Linked DNA regions of Homo sapiens: all the other regions are linked to region 3. The links come from fine-mapping of genetic effects on gene expression. A gene starts in region 3. Each other region holds a variant in brackets. All regions are shown on one strand. Distances are between the middles of the regions.

Evidence for each region. PIP is the estimated chance that this variant, and not a neighbour inherited with it, causes the effect. A credible set is the group of variants that fine-mapping cannot tell apart.
Region 1: its variant is the best candidate, but not a certain one, in a credible set for the expression of GNA14 in nasal epithelium (TOPMed, PIP 0.82).
Region 2: its variant is the best candidate, but not a certain one, in a credible set for the expression of GNA14 in tibial nerve (GTEx, PIP 0.80).

Annotation. Positions count from the first base shown.
Region 1 is chr9:77,568,818-77,573,059 of GRCh38, forward strand. The region is part of intron 1 of GNA14 (G protein subunit alpha 14); the gene reads right to left. Among named protein-coding and RNA genes, the nearest start is that of GNA14, 77 kb to the right of the region's middle. The variant G/T (reference allele first, on the strand shown) is at 2,196.
Region 2 is chr9:77,512,770-77,517,011 of GRCh38, forward strand. The region is part of intron 2 of GNA14 (G protein subunit alpha 14); the gene reads right to left. All of the region lies in intron 2 of GNA14-AS1 (GNA14 antisense RNA 1), which reads left to right. Among named protein-coding and RNA genes, the nearest start is that of GNA14-AS1, 67 kb to the left of the region's middle. The variant T/C (reference allele first, on the strand shown) is at 2,225.
Region 3 is chr9:77,646,577-77,650,818 of GRCh38, forward strand. GNA14 (G protein subunit alpha 14) reads right to left here and starts at 1,746. Exons shown (of 7, transcript NM_004297.4): 1 at 1,094-1,746. The coding sequence starts at 1,217.

The sequences.
Region 1 (4,242 bases), 78 kb before region 3:
GCCTTCAGCAAACCCCCTTCAGCTGGTCTTGTGGAGGGAGCAAAGATACAATTGAGACAGTAAAGTCGCACTTCAGAAACCCCTAATGGGATGCAATTTGGAAAGAGACTGTCATGCCACGTCTGAGATCAGCAGGTGTCTCTGCTACTCGATATTTTCAGGTGGATCTCCAAATCAGACAAGTTTTTCAATGCCCAGGCAGAAAGAGCTTTCTATTTAGCCCAGCTTTGATGAGAAACCCAAGTCCCATATGTGCCTTCTCTTATTCTGTTAAAGAGCTCCGCCACCCCAGATGCATTTTAAACTGAATCTCCAGCCTCATGAATCTCTTTTGCCTTTTTTTTTTTTAAATGGGGTTGGGAAAAAAAGGTTCCCTCCCCGCAGAAGGTGTGTTGAACTTACTCTTGCTATTAATATATGTTTCAAGCATGCTCTTCCCTTGATCCTGGTTGTGACATGGTAACTAGCAAGGGGGGCAGGGGGATGCAGTCCTATTAGCACAGCAGTATAGGCAGAGAGATCATTGGCATTTGGCCAAACTTGGTAACTCAAGAAGGAAAATACTGCTGGATGTGCTGCAGCTACTCCTCTCCAGTGCTGGAGGGGCCAGAACTGTCCTGCCCAACAAGTTTCCCGAGGACCTACTATGTGTTGGGAACTGTGAAATGGCTGTGAACAAGATGGACACAGCTCCTGCTCCCCAGGAGCTTACAAAACGGTCAGAGGGAGACAACTCCACAGGAGACCACTCGGTATAGTGAGTTCCACCAACAGGGGCTGCTCCAGGGAGGAATTAAGGTGGAAAGAAGAAAGAGCCCAGGCTATGTGGGGGCTTTGGTTTCTCCCCCGGGTTCAATATTTCAGGGGCTGTGTCTGCCCCTGTAAAGTGAAAGAGAGAGCCATCTCCTCTTGGAGGAGGGTAGTAGGGATATGTTTTTCTTTTCCTTTCTTTCTTTTTTTTTTTTTTAAGACGGAGTTTCGCTCTTTCACCCAGGCAGGAGTGCTGTGGCACAATCTTGGCTCACTGCAACCTCTGCCTTCCAGTTTCAAGCAATTCTCCTGCCTCAGCCTCCCCAACAGCTGGGATTACAGGCGTGTGCCACCATGTCTGGCTAATTTTTGTATTTTTAGTAGAGACGGGGTTTCACTGTGTTGGTCAGTCTGATCTCGAACTCTTGACCTCGTGATCCGCTTGCCTCGGCCTCCCAAAGTGCTGGGATTACAGGCATGAGCCACCACGCAAAAATCATGGAAGCGAAAATGTCCACACATTTTAGGACCAAGAATTGTATTTCGATTAATTTTTGTCATTATTGTTTGTTGGAGGAAGTTAACTTTAAACTAAACAAATAAATATATATTAACTTAATTCTAACACCATTTCCCCCAATTTTAACAGCTTTATTGAAATATAATCAACATACTATCAAGTTTACCCATTTAATGTGTACAATTCAATGGTTTTTAATATATTTACTGAGTTGTGCAAGCATCACCACAATCTCATTTTAGAACATCTTATCATGTTTTAAAGAAAGAAACCCCAAAAGAAACTTTTTACCCATTAGCAGTGACTCCTTGCCCCCACCACTGCAGCCCAGGCAACACTAATCTACTTTGTCTCTTTAGATTTGCCTATTCTGGGCATTTCATATGTGGAATCATGCAATATATGTGTTTTTTGCATGCATAACTGGCTTCCTTTATTCACATAATTTTTTTAGGTTTATTTATCTGGTAGCGTGCATCAGTACTTCATTTTTTATTGCCAAATAATATTCTATTATGGCTATTCCACACATTTTGTTTATTTTTTCATCAGATTATAGACATTTGGGTTGTTTCCACTCTTTGGCTACTATGGATAATGCTGCTATGCACATTCATGTACAAGTTTTGTGTGGATATATGTTTCAATTCTTTAGGTGTATACCTAGGAGTAACCTTGCTGGGTCGTATGGTAGCTCCATGTTTAACCTTTTGTGGAATTACCACAGTGTTTTCTAAAGTCGATGTATCATTTTACATTCCCACTGGAAATATCTGAGCTCTCAAATTTTAATGTTTCTGAAATAAGAGTACAACTTATAATCTATGTGCATATTTAATAGAGTAAATTGCCCTTTTACATTCAATATAATAAGTTATTTACTGAGACCCAACTAAGTGCTAGGCATACCTTACTTAATGCTCAT[G/T]TACTCTATGATAGAGGTATTATTTTATAGATGAGAAAACTGAGGTTCAAAAAATGGGCTAGAATTGTATAGCTACCACAACTGCATGGTGCTAGTAGTAGCATTTAAACCTGAGTCAGTTATCTGTCAAAATCCAATTTTCCTCCACACTCTTATGCTATTGTTCAAAGATGAGCAAAGGATAATATGTACCTTCTATGAGTTCATAATCTCTGAGACAGATAAATATATAAATATTTGAACACAAGTAAGGCTGAGATAAGTTCTCAATAAGAGGAATTTTTCTAAGTACTGTGGAGGGGTTGGAGTTAAATTTTGACAGAGGAAATCTTGAAGATATTTTGGGATAAGTGGGATTTAAGAGGGTCTTATTTGTAGTGTATGGAAGAATATCTTAAATCAATGCTCTAAGACTATGTCATCCAATATGGTGCCTACTAACCACATGTGGCTGTTGAGCACTTGAAATGTGGCTAGTTTGGTTTGGGAAGTACTGTAAATACACACCAGATTTCAAAAACTTATCATTAAAAAGGGAAGTGCTTTGGGAAGCCGAGGCGGGCAGATCACATGAGGTCAGGAGTTCAAGACCAGCCTGACCAACATGGAGAAACCCTGTCTCTACTAAAAATACAAAATTAGCCAAGCTTGGTGGCATATGCCTGTAATACCAGCTACTCGAGAGGCTGAGGCAGGAGAATCGCTTGACTCCAGCCTGGGCAACAAGAGCAAACCTCTGCCTTCAAAAAAAAAAAAAAAGGTTAAGTGCTGTGAATACACAGGCATTTAAGGACTTATTATTTTTAAGAGTGTAAAATATCTCATTAATTTTTATATTAAGTGTATGTTGAAATGATAATTTTTTTGATATATTGGGTTAAATAAACATATATTACTAAAATTAATTTCATCTTTTTTTTTCCACCAACTGGCTGCTCATAAGAGAATCTGTGTTTTCACTTCAGTGTATTTACATTGTGTAAATGTTGGTTTCTAGCGATTTCAATTGAGGAGCAACTGAAAGAGAGTGGTGGCTGAGACCAAGGATTTGGGGAGAACTCTGAACAGGGTGAATAGAAAGGCCCATGAAAAATTCCCAGGTTAAGAAGAAAAGTCAAGTAATCTTGCAAATTACAAGTTTGTCTTTATTGACAGTGGATGATTTTTTGGCCTGTGAGTTATAAGGAACTAAAAGAAGGGCAATCACAGTGACAACAAAAGTGTTTTCCAAGAAAAGATCTAAGGAAAGAAACAGAGACCTAACACGTAGGGAAGAAGAATTATAAAATGCATCAATGGAATTATGTAGACTGAGAAATAATATCCAAAAACTTATCCAGACAAATCTTCCATTCTTCCTTTCTTGGGTCAGTCCTACCTTTAGACATTTCTTTTTTCTCCTTTCTTTCATAAAATGAAAGGAAATATCATATATCCATCATAGTTTTATAGAATACATAAAAAGACACAAATTCCAAATTGGCCCCAAAAGGTATTTTAGAAGAGAAGCTTTGTTTCAATGTGTAATAAACTGATCTGTGACCTGTGATCCAGTTTTTAAAAATATTTATGTCAGACTCACAATCTGCAATTAGAAACTAAAATTAACTAGCAACAAATACAACAAATTAGTTTGAATTAGCCAAGGTAATCAAGTCTATCAAAGAAATTAAATATATTAAGCAATAATGAGCCTAAACATCATCCTATGCCTTGAAAATCTTGCAAAAACTTGGTGTCTGTGTGCCTCCTGGGGACTCTGTACATTTTTAAATCAGGTCAGGCCAGATCCAATTAGGATGCTCTGAATGCTTTGGGGTTATAGTTTAATGAGTTATAGCAATAATTTACTAAATGTTCCATTGTGGCTTCATGGAGATAATATTACAGGTAGATAGCACAGGTCAATAGAACTAGCTGATTAGGATTTGCAGAAATAAACTATGACTAATAAGCCAACAATATACTGTCGACGCTAAATATTTAGTGATATTACCTCAGCTAAAATGAGATTATAGGTCACTTTAATACTCTGCTTGAAAGTTAC
Region 2 (4,242 bases), 130 kb before region 3:
AAACCCCCGCTAAAAGGCATCCCATTTAGACCACTCTCAGAATATACTATCCAGATTTTATTTGATTTTTACTGGCACTGGTTCGAAGGTCACTGTCATGCTTTGTTTCAATTAGCAAAATAAATTTGAAATAATCTCTGGCTTGTTTACTTCTCTTCAAGGAAAATAAAAAAATATTTTCCATGCAACTATTTCAAATCCACTCAACAGAAGGTTCTTCAATCCTCAAACTTTATCCAGTGAAAGCACTAATCCTGATATTTCTCTAGTTTCTTTGATGGCATGACCCCTTGTGTAAATATTGATAGAGATTACACTGACAGTTGTGTAAGCCAGCTGGATCCCAGCCAGGGACAAAGGAATTTATAAAAGGCCAGGAATAGAGAATCCAAGACAGAGAATCCCCCAATCACCTCATTTAGCACTTTCATAATCAGATCATTAAATGATACCCTAACACTACACAAGGCCTTGAATCACCCATCAAGAAGCATACAGAACAATAGTTAGCAGCTCTGCCTGGGACGTCAGGCCTCCTGGGCTCAGTTTCCCACTCTGACATCTGCTACTTGTGTGATCTTGGGAAAGTTATTTACCTCCACAAACCTTAGTGCCTGTATCTCTAAAGTCAGGGCAAGTGATAGTACCTACATTGAAGAACTATTTAAGATAAAATCATATATTTCCAATAAAGACTGGCACAGAGTGCCTGACATGGATTCACACTCATTTTAGCGCCCAGAAGTATACACAGTCCCTGCCCTTAGGGAGCTCACGAAGTACTGGAAGAGACAACTGTGATGGGTCTATGACACAGGGGACACACTCAATAATTCCGTGAGGAGGCACAGCAATTGCATGACACTCCTGGCCTCTGCCCCTTCCTCTCTTTCGCACCACTCTTCCAGGTCATTACAGGACTGCCCTGCTGGGTGAGGCCTGAGTCTTCCCGAACACATGATGACCTTATAGCTAAGTCCACCACATTCTGGGTTTAGGACAAGTCCTCACTCCAGTTATGAGCCATGCTCTCTATACTTCAGCATTAACCACAATACATTTTGGTCACCTTATTGTTTGCTGTTTGGTCTTATCCTCAATTTCTTTAAAACTTGGTTGATGAAAAGGGTATTATCTATTGAATATCTCTCCTAGTTCATAAGCAAGCCATTGTTCCCTTCAGCACTTTTTTTTTTTGGCCCTCAGGGATTCTAAAACAGCTGTCTGGTGTCTCTGCTTGAGAAGTCATTGTCACAGACTTAACTTTTCCTGGAAGGGTACATTTGCAGCTCAACAAACACATCCCAAGAGCTAAGCATGGCCAATCCCAAGCTTCCCAAACTAAGTTTAGGGCCCCATGCCAGGCTTTTTGGTTATCTTGCAACTCAGAAGCAATATTTCCAATGGCCAAATATTTCTTTGGAAAAAGACAAACATGGCCATGTGGACCCCTGTTGCTTTTTGCCCGATATCACAGTCCCATAGTCAAGGAGGCAAAATTCTATCCCATGGGAGAACAGCTGAGCACGTCCTCTGAGGTTGTGGATACTACCACCTAGATGAATCTCTCAGATACCTTTGGGTTCATAATATTGTCTTCACACAGCGTCTTAATATCATTGACTTCACGTTTATTGAGCCCGAAGGGATGCAGAGGTAAACCCGACATGATTCCCCATCAAAGAACTCTTGGTCTGAAGTGGGAGAGATGCATAAATTAAGAATTATAATGTAATACGAAGGATACTGGGCATTACAGGTACACTGGAAAGAGTATCTAACCCAAGGGTGGGTGGGTGGAAAAAGAAGGTGTCAAAGAAAGTCTTCTATAATATCAGATTTTTTTTTTTTTTTTTTTTTTTGAGACAGAGTCTCACTCTGTCCCCCAGGCTAGAGTGCAGTGGTGCGATCTCGGCTCACTGCAAGCTCCGCCTCCCGGGTTCACGCCATTCTCCTGCCTCAGCCTCCCAAGTAGCTGGGACTACAGGCGTCTGCCACCACGCCCGGCTAATTTTTTGTATTTTTAGTGGAGACGGGGTTTCACCGTGTTAGCCAGGATAGTCTCGATCTCCTGTCCTTGTGATCCGCCCACCTCGGCCTCCCAAAGTGCTGGGATTACAGGCATGAGCCACTGCGCCCAGCCCAGATTTCTTATTTAAGACAAATAAATGAAGTTAGCTATTTATGAGTACAAAGGAAATCAGTTTCAGGACGTTCAGGCAGA[T/C]GGAGGATGTGAGATGACAGTGAGGCCTGGGAGAAGCAGGAAACCACAATCCAATAGGGAGAGGAAATGAGGCTGGACACTGCGAGAGACACGTTCAAGAAAGGCCAGAATGTGGCCTTAAGGTCAACTGCATGGGCTCATAAAAAAATCACATTCCTTTGCCCCAGGAATGAGTTCTTCAGTGGATAGGCTTTTGGCAAACTGGCCTGCATCTATGTCAGGCACTGCAGCTACAAAGGTGGGGAAAAGTAGGCATAGACCTTGGCCTTCATAGATCTTCCATTCTAGTGGAGGACAAGAAAGACGTGGGCAGGCAAAGAGGAAAGGGAAGCAGAGAGAGGAGCATGTGGAAAAGTCCTGGGCTTGAAGGAGCATTGTGAATACAGGGACCAAAAGAAAGGAGGTCACTGTGGTTGAAGCTGAATGAGCATGCGGCAGAGCCGGGCAGCCACTGCTGCCAAAAACCACAAGGCTTGCAAAAATAGTAAAAGAGAGGCTGTTGATCTGCTATTGGGTTCCCCGCCCTTAAAATGCCAAAACTATGTTATAATAACTTGAGATTTCTAATGGTGTTCATCTGGAATTCAAAAGGTATTTGTTTGTTTGTTTATGCATTGCCTTTGTCTGAGAGCTGGAGGAAACAGACAGGAATACAGCATTGCTCTTGAGGAATTCAAGAGTGAGCTGGTGCCAGTTTCTGTGGCTCACGTCAGTAATCCCAACACTTTGGAAGGCCAAGGTAGGAGGATCACTTGTGTCTAGGAGTTCAAGACCAGCCTGGGCAACATAGGGAGACCCCATCTTTACAAAAAAATAAAAAATTAGCCAGGCCTGGGGGTGTGCACCTGTAGTCCCAGTTAGGAGGCTGAAGTGGGAGGATTGCTTAAGCCTGGGAGGTCGAGGTTGCAGTGAGCCATGATCATGCCACTGCACTCAACCCAGGCAACGCAGCAAGACCCTGTCTCACAAAAAAAAAAAAAAAAAAAAAAACCCAGAGCAGGAAGAGACAGCCATGTAACAGAGTTTCACACTATGGGGAGAGATGGGAACTAACAGGGGCAGGTGGTACATGACCCGCAAGCAGAGAGTCACTGAAGACTTAGAGGTCTCCAGGAAACCTTTACTCAAGGATCTCCTTCACAAGGCAATGGACCATTAAATCCTCGAAGCTTTGTAATATCAGACTAGTTGCCCATTTTGTCTTCTCTTGGGCCCAATCTTTAGAAAGCACTCTTAGCTTGTGCTATTCATTTCATTCGTATAACAAATATTTATCAAATGTCTACTATTGCTATGGGTTAGGTCTCCTTGTCTAAGTTTCCTAGGTGAAAATTATTATTTGGCATTATCAGTCATTCATATCAACCTCTAGTGGCAGAGATACCACTCACTTGGAGGCAGGGAAGCAAAACTGTCATAGATGGGTGTTCATAATCAAAGTAACACAGGTCAGCCGGGCATGGTGGCTCACACCTGTAATCCCAGCACTTTGGGAGGCCAAGGCAGCTGATCACTTGAGGCCAGGAGTTCGAGACCAGCCTGGCCAACATGGTGAAACCACATCTCCACTAAAAATACAAAAATTAGATGGGTGTGGTGGTGTGCACCTGTAGTCCTGGCTACTCGGGAAGCTAAGGTGGGAGAATCACTTGAATCTAGGAGGCGGAGGTTGCAGTAAGCTGAGATGGCACCACTGCACTCCAGCCTGGGCAAAAGAGTGAGACCCCATTGGGGGTGGGGGGCGGTAGGGGGCAGGGGAATGTAACACAGGTCTTGACCTGGCATGGGGGTTAGGAAGGACATCAAGTTACACCTTTGTGGACAGTGACAAGAGTAATCTCTGGCCAAATATATAAAATCAAAACATCTCTTACAACAATAATGACAACCTGTCTCTTAAAGATGGGAAAGTGAGGATCGTGGTTGAAAAGAACAGGCTCTTGATTTCCCTTAACACAGAGCCCACTGTTGGCTGGACTCAGACGTGTGAACAGCCAGAGCCAGCCAAGTGCCTGGTG
Region 3 (4,242 bases):
TCCTTGAAGCTTTCTGGGAGGGTGATTCCTATACAAGGAATAAAGATGAATAAATAGATGGTATAAGAGAAGATTCCTGTTCAAAAGGGGTGAAAGAAAAAAAGTTGAAATCTTTGTGGCTATCTAGAAAAAAATTGACAGCTGATATCATGGTCTGAAAGGTAGAAAAGGTAAAATATTCCTCAAACAGCAAATGTGTTGACAGCGTTCTAGAAAGTCTGAGATGGGATCCTTGCCTCATGGCATAACTTGGGCAAACCTTAAACTGTGTTCTTTCTGTGTTTGAAAGTGGATGTCCTACCCAGACCTTTGCAGAGACACCAAAAGAGCTGGATGAAGACCTGCCAGAGGCACCAGGGCAGCCAAGCTGAATCCTAGGACGTGGACACACTGAGTCAAGCTGGGCAAGGGAGGTTTGGGTCCGCTGCAAACACAAAGGCCTGAGGGACCCCCATGGGAGGCAGGCATAGGAGCTCACGGTCAGAGGAGCAGCAACGGCATGGGCTTCACCCCCACAGCTGACCTAGCATCGGCTTTGCCTTTTCTCAATCAGGGCAAGTTGGTCAGTTCTCCAGGCCTCCATGTTTTAATTCTCTAGAATAGCGATATCACCTGCCCGCATCACCAGGTGGTGATGCCCTTAAGAACTTAGCACGATCTGGCACATGGTAAATTCTCAAGATGCTTCATCTAGAACTGAAAGCGTACGGGTCAGAGCTAGCGCTGAACCCAAGATGTGGGTCACCACAGACCCCAAGCTGGGTGTGCTGCGGGCGGAGGAGTGGACGGGGTTTTGAGGAGAGGGGCACACCGGAACACATAAGGTACAGCGGTCAAGAGGTTAAGTGTTACAGGTCCCTATCCTGTTTTGGGGCAGGGGAAGGTGTTGCTTTTGCAAGTCGCCCAGCCAGAGATGGAAAGAACAGGCACCTAAGGCCCCAAGTTGCTGGCATCCGTGAGCTCCGAGGGGGAGAAGGACGAAGCCGCCCTGCACCCCGCTGGGCTCCAGGGCCGCGCGGGTGCCAGTGGAGAGGCCGGGAGGGCTCGGAAGAAAAACGCCCGGCTCACTGGAGTCGGAGACGCAGCCACTCACCCAGCAGCAGCAGCTTAAGCTCACGGCGCGCGTCCTTCTTGTCCCGACGAAGCTGTCGCTCGATCTCCGCGCTGATGCGCTGCGACTCCTTCTCCTCCGCGGACAGGCAGCAGCAGCCGGCCATGGTGCGCTCAGCTCAGTACCCGACGGGGCGACGCGGCCCCGGGCACCCGAATCCTCGGCCCGGCCGCTCACCCGGCCAGCATGCGACGGGCACAGGGGTGTGGAAAGAAAAGACGGGGGCCGACTTGAGCTTTGGAGTAAGACGCCTGGACCTCCGAGGCTCAATCCCCCTTCGAAAGTCGGCTCTGAGGCGGGGTGAATGCCGAGCGCTGGGAACGCTCGAGTGCACCCCGGATCCGGGCTCAGCCCGCCCCACTCTCGCTCTGGGGAGGAGGAGGGCGAGTCGAGAAGTTGGGAGCGTTGCTGGCCCCGGGAAGATGCGCGCGCCCCTTGGCACAGGAGCCGGACAGCAGTCGGGGGCGCAGACGAGTTGGAACGTCGGTGCTCGGGGGAGAGTAGGATCTCCTGGGCCTAGGGGTGTCCCCAGGCGGGAGGTAGGCGCGGAGTGGGTTGGAGGCAAAGGACCTGGCTGGCCTTTGCCTGGAAAGTTCTGAAAACCTCAGCAGTGACCGCAGACTAAGACTGAGTGGAAAGGTTCCCGCTAGCGTTTGTGGCTCTAAGTGGCAGGAGGAGGCGGAGCATCTTGAACCTGCAGCCCTGGCGTCTGCTGGACTTGCCCTTCTGGGCACCCCAAGCCGAAGGCGCCTGGAAGTGAAAGGGGACGAGCAGGGGGCGCGGAGCTGGGGGTGGGAGCTGGCACCTCTAGGAGCAGCTCCCACACTTGCCTCCCTGGCTGGGGCGTCCCGGCCAAGGTTTGCTGTAATCTGCGCGTCTGGCCGCCAGGCACCGGGTTCCGACAGGTGAGTGAGTTTCGCCAACTCACTCGCTCGGAGAAGGCGGCAGCAGGCTGGAAGAGGAGCGGCGCCAAGCGTCTGTTGCGGGACACAAAGCCCCGGACCTGAAGTGGAAGCTTGCCCACCAGCTTCACCACCACGCACACCCGGATTTCCTAGACTGGCTCCTTCCGCTTCCCGGACGCCCCGGCCCAGCTCGGGCTTGGCCAAAGCCCTTGGTCAGCTCGGCAATTTGCCTGTAAAGTGTGGCTGGGCCTGAGCCTGCTGGCTCTGAGCTCGGAGAAGGAGCCGCCGCTGGGTTCAGTTATAAGAGAACTGCAAGAGCCCAGGGTAAATATCCTCTCGGTCTCCGGACGAGGGGGCTGGGGAGAAAGGGAACGGCTGATTGCTTTGCATTTTATGATGGGAAAGACACCTGCTTTGTAGAAAGGGCTGATACGTTCCTAGTAGCACCTGGCAAGTTTCCTGCCCAGCCCTGAAGCCTAACAGCCGCCTTGCGATTGTGTCCGCACTGACACCTTGGCCTGTATCCTGGACCGTCGGGGTCAAGTTTGAGCAGCATTAATAAAAACTTTAAAAGCACCTCTTAGTACTTAAGTGACACGATAAAATGCATATTACAACATCTGACTTTTGTCTGTGTAGATTTTGATGCAGAAAAGGGAAGGTGGGGAGAGGGGATCCTATTGGCCACAGCAATGAACGTTCTTTCCTTCTCAAGTCAGTATAGGCCATATGCTAATGGGGCGTTAGGCAATTAGCTAGCGCTTCCTCTACTAAGAGCAGGCATAAGTGCCTTTCATTTGAGTAGCATATATTTTATAAATTCAAACTGAGGAGCACATTGAGTGGAATGGTACGTGTCATTATATAAAGAAGTTGGTATCGCGATGCTATCTGGCTGCATGTTCTTATTATTTTACAGTTTAAGAAATGTAGAGGAATCAGACATTAAAAATGTGCATACATGCTTTAATGTGTGACTATTTTAGTTTTCTTGCAGGCATAAATTGACAGTAACAGTGACCCCTACAGGAAAACTCCTGGACATTTCAGATTTGATCTTTGGCCATTTAATAGCCTGTTTCTTCTCTCTTAGCTCTTACGGATTCATTTACAATTTGAGAATAAGATCTCTTGGCTTCTCAAAGTCATGGTTGCATCATAATTGTTATCATTTAAAAATTATAAAAAATTTTTAAATGATTAAAACTAGGGCAAATTTGAACTCTTACGTTAACGGGAATTACTGATACTGACCTATTAGGTTTAAAGTTGGCAAGATTTCAAAAACAGTTATGAAACATATTGATTAGGGCAAATCTGTACAACTTTCCTGGGCTAGTCAGCTTGGCAGTATATATCTGAAGCCTTAAACATGTCCGTCCCCTTCGGCCAAACCAGTAATTTCTCCCTTAAGAAATAACTAGAAAGAAGCCTCATGACTGATGCAAAGGTTTTATTGCCAATACAACAACAAAAACTCACAACCTAAATACCTAACAACAGGGAAGAGATCACTTAAATCATGGTTTATCCATACAATGAGATGTTTTGGAGCCATTAAATATGTGGATATGCGAGTAGTAAACATGTGAATAAATTTGGAGAAAATCCTCAAAATATATTGAATGAAAAAGGCAAGATCCAAAAATATAAAGAGTATGATAAGATTTTAGTATAAGAATACGCATACACATTTTTAAGAGACTGAAGGGACACACATCAAAAAGGTAGCTTGCTGTGAGTCATGGCTGTTTGGTTGATTTTCATTGTTCATTAGAAAATTTGGGCTGGGTGCAGTGGCTCACGTCTGTAATCCCAGCACTTTGGGAGGCCGAGGCGGGCAGATCACCTGAGGTTGGGAGTTCGAGACCAGCCAGCCTGACCAACATGGAGAAACCCCATCTCTACTAAAAATACAAAATTAGTTGGGTGTGGTGGCACATGCCTGTAATCCCAGCTACTCGGGAGGCTGAGGCAGGAGAATTGCTTGAATCCGGAAGGCAGAGGTTGTGGTGAGCCAAGATCACACCATTGCACTCCAGCCTGGGCAACAAGAGCCAAACTCCGTCTCAAAAAAAAAAAAAAAGAAAGAAAAAATTTGGGGCAGCTTGCATAAAATTATTTAGGCTCCACTTTCCTTAACTATAAGATGAGAGGGATAAGCCAGAATAAGCTCAAAAGGATCACCCAACTCTAACATGCATTATTTCTTTGATGACATTCACA